Linked DNA regions of Homo sapiens. The protein of the gene in region 1 purifies or fractionates together with the protein of each later gene. This does not show direct contact. Each region holds a gene or a part of one and is shown in the gene's direction. Other genes may lie near its edges.

What was found.
Region 2: the proteins of ACTRT1 (region 1) and SERPINB9 purify together in Homo sapiens (affinity purification with mass spectrometry; one large-scale study listed by BioGRID and IntAct). This does not show direct contact.

The regions. Positions count from the first base shown.
Region 1 is NC_000023.11:128,049,140-128,054,504, reverse strand, and holds ACTRT1 (actin-related protein T1), read left to right. Parts: upstream 1-2,101; 5' UTR 2,102-2,298; coding exon 2,299-3,429; 3' UTR 3,430-3,543; downstream 3,544-5,365. UniProt on the Homo sapiens protein: Negatively regulates the Hedgehog (SHH) signaling. Binds to the promoter of the SHH signaling mediator, GLI1, and inhibits its expression.
Region 2 is NC_000006.12:2,890,040-2,893,309, reverse strand, and holds part of SERPINB9 (serpin B9), read left to right. Parts: intron 1-1,321; coding exon 1,322-1,477; intron 1,478-2,739; coding exon 2,740-3,147; 3' UTR 3,148-3,270. UniProt on the Homo sapiens protein: Granzyme B inhibitor.

The DNA.
Region 1 (5,365 bases):
TCATGTCTCTTGCAGTAACATGGATGGAGCTGAAGGCCATTATTCTAAGTAAACTAACAAAGAAGCAGAATATCAAATACAGATGCTCTCACTTATAAGTAGAAGCTAAACAAATGATACACATGGACATAATGATGGGCAAAATATATTCTGGGGACTCCAAAGGGATGACAGTGGGAGAAGAGTGAAAGATAAAATATAACCTATTGAATACAGTGTCCAATATTTGGTTAATGGGTACTCTAGAATCCCAACTCCCACCATTATACATGTAATACCTATGTAACAAATAAGCACATGTACCCCTCTGAATCAAAGATAAAATTAGGCAGGTGGATCACCTGAGGTCGGGAGTTCAACACCAGCCTGACCAACATGGGAAACCCCGTCTCTACTAAAAATACAAAATTAGCTGGGTGTGGTGGCACATGCCTGTTATCCCAGCTACTCAGGAGGCTGAGGCAGGAGAATTGCTTGAACCCAGTAGGCGGAGGTTGTGGTGAGCCAAGATAGAGCCATTGCACTCCAGCCTGGGCAACAAGAGTGAAACTCCATCACAAAAAACAAAACAAAACAAACAAAAAACAAACAAAAACAAAACAAAACAAAAAAAACTCCAGTTATAAAAGAAAAATAAAATACTTGGAAATAAAAATTTGACAAAACTGGTATAAAAGTTTTACTCCAAAAATGACAATATTCCATGAAGAAACTAAAATAATATGCAAGTGAATGGCAAAATAAAATCACATGTTCATGGGTTGGAAGAGTTGACGTTATTAAGATGGTAATATTCCTTAAATTGATCTAATGATTCAAGGCAATCTCTATCAAAATTCCATATGACATTTGCGTAGGAATTGGAAAGTTGATCCTAAATTGCATACTGAATTGCAAGGGACCCAAAATGGCCAAAACAATCTTGAAAAGGAAGAACAAAGAAGTACTCAAACTTCTTAACTACAGAATTTATTACAGAGTGACAGAAATCAATGCAGTGTGCTACCAGCATGATGATAGACATATAGATCAATGGAATAGGGCAGTGAGTCCAGAAATAAACCCAGGTGTCTGTCTATGGTCAATTGTTGCTTGAAAAAGATACTAGTCATTCTATGGGGCAAAATTATCCTCTTCAGCAAATGGTGCTGGAACAGCCAGATAGAACCATATTCAAAAGAATGAAGTTGAAAACTTAATGCACACCATAAATAAAAAATGAACTCAAAATTAACAAAAACTAAATGTAATAGTTAAAAGTTTAAAATTCTTACAAGAAAACAAAAAGATAAATTTAAGAATCTTAAATTTTATAATGAATGCTTACATATGACACAAAATATGAACAACAAATGATAACAGAGAAACTGGACTCCTTTAAAATTTAAAAGTTTTGTAATTTCAAGAACACTAACAAAAAAGTGAAAAGACAATACAAGAATAAAAGAACATGTATGCACATAATGTATCTGATAAACACCAGACTCTTGAATGTGTAAAGAACAGTTACAATGGAATAATCAAAAAACAACCTTATAAAAAAGGAACAAAGGGTCTGCATAGACATTTCTCCCAAGAAGGTATTAGAATGGCCAATAAGCACATAATAAAGATTCTCAACATTGATACTTAAAGCTGCAAATCAAAACCACAATAAGATAACATTTCACACACACTAGAATGCCTAGAATCATAAAGTCAGAAAATAGAATTTAGAAGCATGTGGAGAAGTAGGAGCATTCCTACAGCGACTGTGGGAATGCAAAATGTCACAGCCACTTTGGAACAAAGAACTTACAGAAATTAAAATCAAATGATTTAACATACAGTTGTCATATAACTCAGCAATTCTATTCTCAAATATATATCTAAAAAAATGAAAACATAATTCCAAGCAAAAGCATGTAGAATAGTGTTTCTCATAGCTCTGTAGGTATGATTTGCTTTCCTTGGCTTTGTATCTGACCAAGTAGGGAGTACTATTGGCTCAGAGGCCCCACCCGGCCCCTCTGATGCTCACTGAGGACAATTGTTGCCTTGGCTGGATTGTGACATAGAGGGCAATCACCCCTCATGTTGCCTCAGCAGGCCCTGAGCCTACAGAATGGAGATAAGATTCAGAGGTTGAGGATGGGGTGTCCTGGTGGACTGAAGGTAGCCTACTAGCTGTACATGGGTGACAACTTGAAACTTCAGAACCCTGAAGTTTAAAAAATTCTAAAGGTGCCTGTCATCTCAGAGAGTGACGTAAGTGTTCTTTCTTTATTTGGGGGAAGTCCAGGAGAACATATTACAGACATGTTTAATCCACATGCATTAGATGTTCCTGCTGTAATTTTTGACAATGGTTCAGGACTCTGCAAAGCAGGCCTGTCTGGAGAGATTGGACCCCGCCATGTCATCAGCTCCGTCTTGGGACATTGTAAATTCAATGTGCCTTTAGCAAGACTTAATCAGAAGTACTTCGTGGGGCAAGAAGCCCTGTACAAGTATGAGGCCCTACATTTGCACTACCCCATTGAGCGTGGACTGGTAACAGGATGGGATGACATGGAGAAACTCTGGAAACATCTCTTTGAGCGGGAGCTTGGAGTAAAACCCAGCCAACAGCCTGTACTTATGACCGAGCCCTCTTTGAATCCTAGGGAAATTCGAGAAAAGCTAGCAGAAATGATGTTTGAGACCTTCAGTGTGCCTGGTTTCTACCTGTCTAATCATGCGGTGGCAGCGCTCTATGCCTCTGCCTGTGTCACAGGCCTGGTGGTGGACAGTGGAGATGGGGTCACTTGCACTGTCCCCATCTTTGAGGGTTACTCCCTGCCTCACGCAGTCACCAAACTCTGTATGGCAGGGAGGGACATCACAGAGCACCTCACCCGGCTCCTCTTTGCTAGCGGGTTTAACTTCCCTTGCATACTCAACAAGGCCGTGGTAAATAACATCAAAGAGAAGTTGTGCTACATCGCCTTGGAGCCAGAGAAAGAGCTACGCAAGAGCCGGGGAGAGGTCCTGGGAGCATACAGACTGCCAGATGGACATGTCATCCACTTTGGGGATGAGCTGTACCAAGTGCCCGAGGTTCTTTTTGCACCTGACCAGCTGGGCATCCACAGCCCAGGACTCTCAAAAATGGTCTCCAGCAGCATCATGAAGTGTGACACTGACATCCAGAATAAACTTTATGCAGACATTGTACTCTCCGGGGGCACCACTCTCCTCCCTGGGCTGGAGGAAAGGCTCATGAAGGAAGTGGAACAGCTGGCTTCCAAAGGTACTCCCATCAAGATCACAGCTTCTCCTGATAGATGCTTCTCTGCATGGATTGGTGCATCCATCATGACCTCTATGAGCAGTTTCAAGCAGATGTGGGTCACCTCGGCAGACTTCAAGGAGTATGGGACATCTGTGGTTCAAAGAAGGTGCTTTTAAAGATCCTTGAGCAGAGGAGACATCTTGAAGTGTCAGATTACAGGAGTACCAGTGGGAGATGGCATTTTCTTCTGGGCTTCAGCATGATGTTCAATAAAAGTTTTGCCATTTCAAGTTTCAGTTTATTCTTAGTAGCACCATAATATATGAGTCATGTCATGAATCTTTAGGTTGCTCTATTACTCTCTTCTTTCCTATGGGCCTGTTAAGTTTTTTTCTCCTAAGAAGATCTTGGGTTATATGTTGAGGTTATGTTCATATAGAGGATTTGTAGCAAACGGTGCCTGGGGCTCATATCTAGGAACTTGATTTGGTAGAATCTCAAGAATCTTTAAATTAAATTATTATCTTAGGTGGTTCTAATAGACCCAGTTCCCAGGAGACTAAATCACGAAGAAAAGTGTGGGCAAAGGAAGGAAATGAAGCAGAACTGGAAATCCTCCACTAGTCTTAGAGTTCAAGTCCTTTTTCCTGGTTTGTCATTTAGTTAGTGCAATAGGGTTCTTGCTGTGCTGTTATGAGATCAAAAATGCTAATTAGAATGGAGAAAAAATTGGGCATAGAAATCACCATTTTCTAAGGCTCTCTAAGCTCAGGGTCCTTGTTCCCAGTTGCAGCATTAAGAATCAGTATTTCTAAATTATTTTTTTATCATTTTTAATTTCAAGGCTCTATATAGCATCATTTTGTTATGGATAAAACACTAGAAACAATAGTTATCAATAAAATAATCATTGAATAAATTATGCATACAGAAATATTTCTTCTCATTAAGTTAATACATATATTAATAAATGTGATTTTATTTAATTATAAGCATTTGGAGAAAAGTACAAAAGTAAAGGCACTACATAGTTTATGCAACTTGAAGAAGAATGGAATGAGAGGTAATGCAGCTGGAAGGAAATGGTGTAACAAATTAAAAAAAAGAAATTATTATATTATAAATTTCAGCCTGAACGAAATAAAACCATTCATCTAAAAAATTATATTTTTTCACATATCTACTCATCATTGCTAGCCTAAATACAACCATGAAAATTGTCAAGCCCTATAGTCACTATAAGTCAATTCTTTTCATTTTTATGTTTATTTGAGAGAGTTGACTTAACAGCAAACTTCTGTTTACCGGTAACTAATCAAAACCACAAAGAAATAAGATAGTGGAATAACACCTTCAAAATGAGTTAGAAAAACTCTACTGTCAGTATAGTATTATATACCCAGGAAAACCATTACAAGAAAGATGGTCATAAAATAAGAGACATTTTTGAATAATAACTAAAAGTACTTACTGTCAGCACACTATTAGCACAGAAAATCTTATAAGATTTACTTAAGGCATATAGAAATAACCCCAGAATAAGATAACATGTTAGAAAAAATAATAAAATTTTAAAATGCTGAAAAGGGGGGTAAATTAAAAAATATTGATGGTATTTATTTATTTATTTGAGACAGAGTTTCACTCTTGTTGTCCAGGCTGGAGTGCAATGGCACGATCTTGGCTCACTGCAACCTCCACCTCTTGGGTTCAAGTGATTCTCCCGCCACAGCCTCCCGAGTCGCTGGGATTACAGGTGCTTACCACCACGCCCAGCTAATTTTTGTTATTTTTAGTAGAGATGGGGTTTCGCCATGTTGGCCAGGCTGGTCTGAAACTCCTGACCTCAGGTGATCCACCCACCTTGGCCTCCCAAAGTGCTGTGCTGGGATTACAGGCGTGAGCCACTGCGCCTGGCTGGTATAAATTTATAGTAGTAAAATAGACAATAAACCTTCCATTGTACAAACATAGCCACAAATCATGAATACTCGTTTGAATTTAAAATATTTAAATACATTTGCATTATTCAGAAAGAAAAGTATTAATTAAACTTAGAATCTTTATGTTGAAACTGAAGAAATTCTGACTATAAAACCTTAAAAATTAACA
Region 2 (3,270 bases), on another chromosome or scaffold:
ATTTGAAACTTAAAGTATTTCTGAATGAATTTCTTAACTCAGTAGAAAAAAACGGAAGGAGTAAAAGATATTTGCTGCATATATATATTATATATACGTATATATAATATATATATATATATGTAGTGTTTTATCACTGCTCTTAACTGCCTTTGATAATTTCTCATAAACCATTGCTGCCACCTAGTTTTGGAAACTAAAGATCTTCCTATAAGCCCAATTTACTTGGCTAGAAAGCAAAAAAAAAAAAAAAAAAGTGTTAAGGTAGTGTGATATGTGGGAGTGAGAGGCAGTATAGGGCAGGGTAGAGGGAGAGAAGGTGAAAACATGTGTCTTTAATTAGTTATTTTTAAAATTAAAGTAAGTTTTGATTTGAATTGTTAACTAATTATCATTAATTCAGTATTTACAGCTTTTTAATATTAAAACTTCATGACAAAGACCTTAGTTTTGACATTGAAGTAAAACTTAATTAAGGCAGGCATTAGAATAATTTGCCAAATCTTCCAGCCCCTAAAAAGATACTATTTTAATGTAATTAAAAAACAAAAGCAGGTAACCCTCCTGCATTTTTTGTAAGGTGTACTTTAACTTAAAAAAATTAGTTCTCTAGTTGCAAAGGGTGGGAGGAGGAGAATTCTAACCCTGGTTTTAGAACTATTTTAATTTTTATAATAAATGATCTGTATCAATTTTTTAAAGTATTACGTTAATAAATGTAATACTTTGCTGAGCTTCTATGTGCTTATGCCTCTTCTGTATTTTAAAAAAGTTATTTCATTAGAGTATCAGAATTGAAAAGATTGGGTTAAAATACATTACTACATATGTAGGTCGTTACTCTTTCTGAGAGAGTGTATCCATTTATACTCCCTGTCATGCTGTTGTGGAACTATAAGTTTCATCCCACTTTATGATTTTTTTTCTCATATGTTGGGTTGGATAAATAGGAAAAACAATACACATTTTTTTCTAATTAAATCAAAACAAATTTGTATTTAATTTCATTTGATTATATTGCTTTCTTAGATCTATTTGCTGAGCACAATTTAAATGAGAAACATCTTTCTCCTCTGGAAAATGTAGGGTATCACATTTTATTTTGCAGAAGAAAACCTTTCCCAGGGTGGTACTGTGTCTGCTTGCAATGAAGATAGGAAGGAACTGGTTGACTTTTTTTTTTTTTTTTTTTTTTTTTTTTTTTAGTGTTAACTGGGGCATGAATGTGGCGGTTTCCATCACAGGTGCTGAAAACACTCTTGGAGGCAACTGCAGCTCTTTTGAAAGTTTTAATTGCGTCTTTCAATAATCCTTCCCCCAGGAGGAGCAAAGGCCAGTGCAGATGATGTATCAGGAGGCCACGTTTAAGCTCGCCCACGTGGGCGAGGTGCGCGCGCAGCTGCTGGAGCTGCCCTACGCCAGGAAGGAGCTGAGCCTGCTGGTGCTGCTGCCTGACGACGGCGTGGAGCTCAGCACGGTAAGACCCGGGCTGCGGGAAGAACCCAGGGACACCTTTGCGGGCAGAACTCGAGTGCCACTTCCACCTCTCATATTCACCTTCTGAGTTGGCGATGCGGCAGACGCACACTGTGCAGGCACTTGGCGTTGGGATCGAACTTTTGTTCAAGGCTGACTTTTCCCAATATTGTCTGCGTGATCTGCCAAACTACACATCTCAGTCCTCTGTTTTTTCATCGCTAGAAGGAGTGGGCGGCGGTTAAAATGCCTTTTAAAATAAATCAGGTAGGAGGAAGCTTATAAAAATCCTGCTAGTTTGATGAATGGCAGACTTTTAACTCTAAAAGCATAAATGACTGCTCGGGGTTATTGCCTCCTAGAGTTATGATGAGGATAAAATGTGGGTAATTCAGGTAACAAGCTTACCACATTGCCTGGCAACTAGTAAATGCTCTACAAATGTGATCCATTATTACAATCATCATTCTTAGCATTATGCTTTTAAAGTCTAGGAACCTGAAATAGAGAATGAGGAAGTCTTAACTTTGACCTAACAAGGCTGGGAGGGGGCATCCAGGGAGGTGTGAAGTCCAGTTCTCAGAGGGTGGGACCAGAGGCAGCCTCTGAGGGCACATCCAGGCACTCGGCTTCCTTTCAGCATGGATCTCCAGGGTGAGAGAGTCAACCATGGCAAATGGCAGGCAGTGGGACCCCATGACTTAAGAGGTCTGTGTGCGCAGCAGCCATTGGCTCTCCCTCTGCCCACCTTCCTGAAACTATGCTCCGGAAACTATGCAGAATCTCTCTGGGGCAGATAATCCTCTGGTAACCTCTCTGCTCCGGAAACTATGCAGAATCTCACCTGGGACAGATAATCCTGTTGGAGTGGCTCACACTGAGAGCCCTTTCGTTTCCAATCCTTTTCTTTACTAGCAATGGTTTGTTGTCTTTAAAAAGACTATGTTTGAAAAAAAAACACAGTCGCCTGGGCATTGACACTTGTCACAATACAAGATGTCTCTGGAGTTGTTGGATAAGGAGAGGACAGCCACAGCCTTCCTGCCTCTGACTGCTTGGTGTCTCTCCCCCTTGTCAAGGAAGTGGCACATGGGACATAGGACAAGTAAGAGTGCTCACAAGCTTCTGGCAGATGAAGGGGCCACTGATCCTATGTGAACAAACAACACCTACGTGCAAGGGGAGGAAGGGAACTGTGAGTGCCTGTGCGCTTGTACATGTGCACTGAAGTCGGAATCTTAAAGTCTAATTCTGGTCTTTCAGGTGGAAAAAAGTCTCACTTTTGAGAAACTCACAGCCTGGACCAAGCCAGACTGTATGAAGAGTACTGAGGTTGAAGTTCTCCTTCCAAAATTTAAACTACAAGAGGATTATGACATGGAATCTGTGCTTCGGCATTTGGGAATTGTTGATGCCTTCCAACAGGGCAAGGCTGACTTGTCGGCAATGTCAGCGGAGAGAGACCTGTGTCTGTCCAAGTTCGTGCACAAGAGTTTTGTGGAGGTGAATGAAGAAGGCACCGAGGCAGCGGCAGCGTCGAGCTGCTTTGTAGTTGCAGAGTGCTGCATGGAATCTGGCCCCAGGTTCTGTGCTGACCACCCTTTCCTTTTCTTCATCAGGCACAACAGAGCCAACAGCATTCTGTTCTGTGGCAGGTTCTCATCGCCATAAAGGGTGCACTTACCGTGCACTCGGCCATTTCCCTCTTCCTGTGTCCCCAGATCCCCACTACAGCTCCAAGAGGATGGGCCTAGAAAGCCAAGTGCAAAGATGAGGGCAGATTCTTTACCTGTC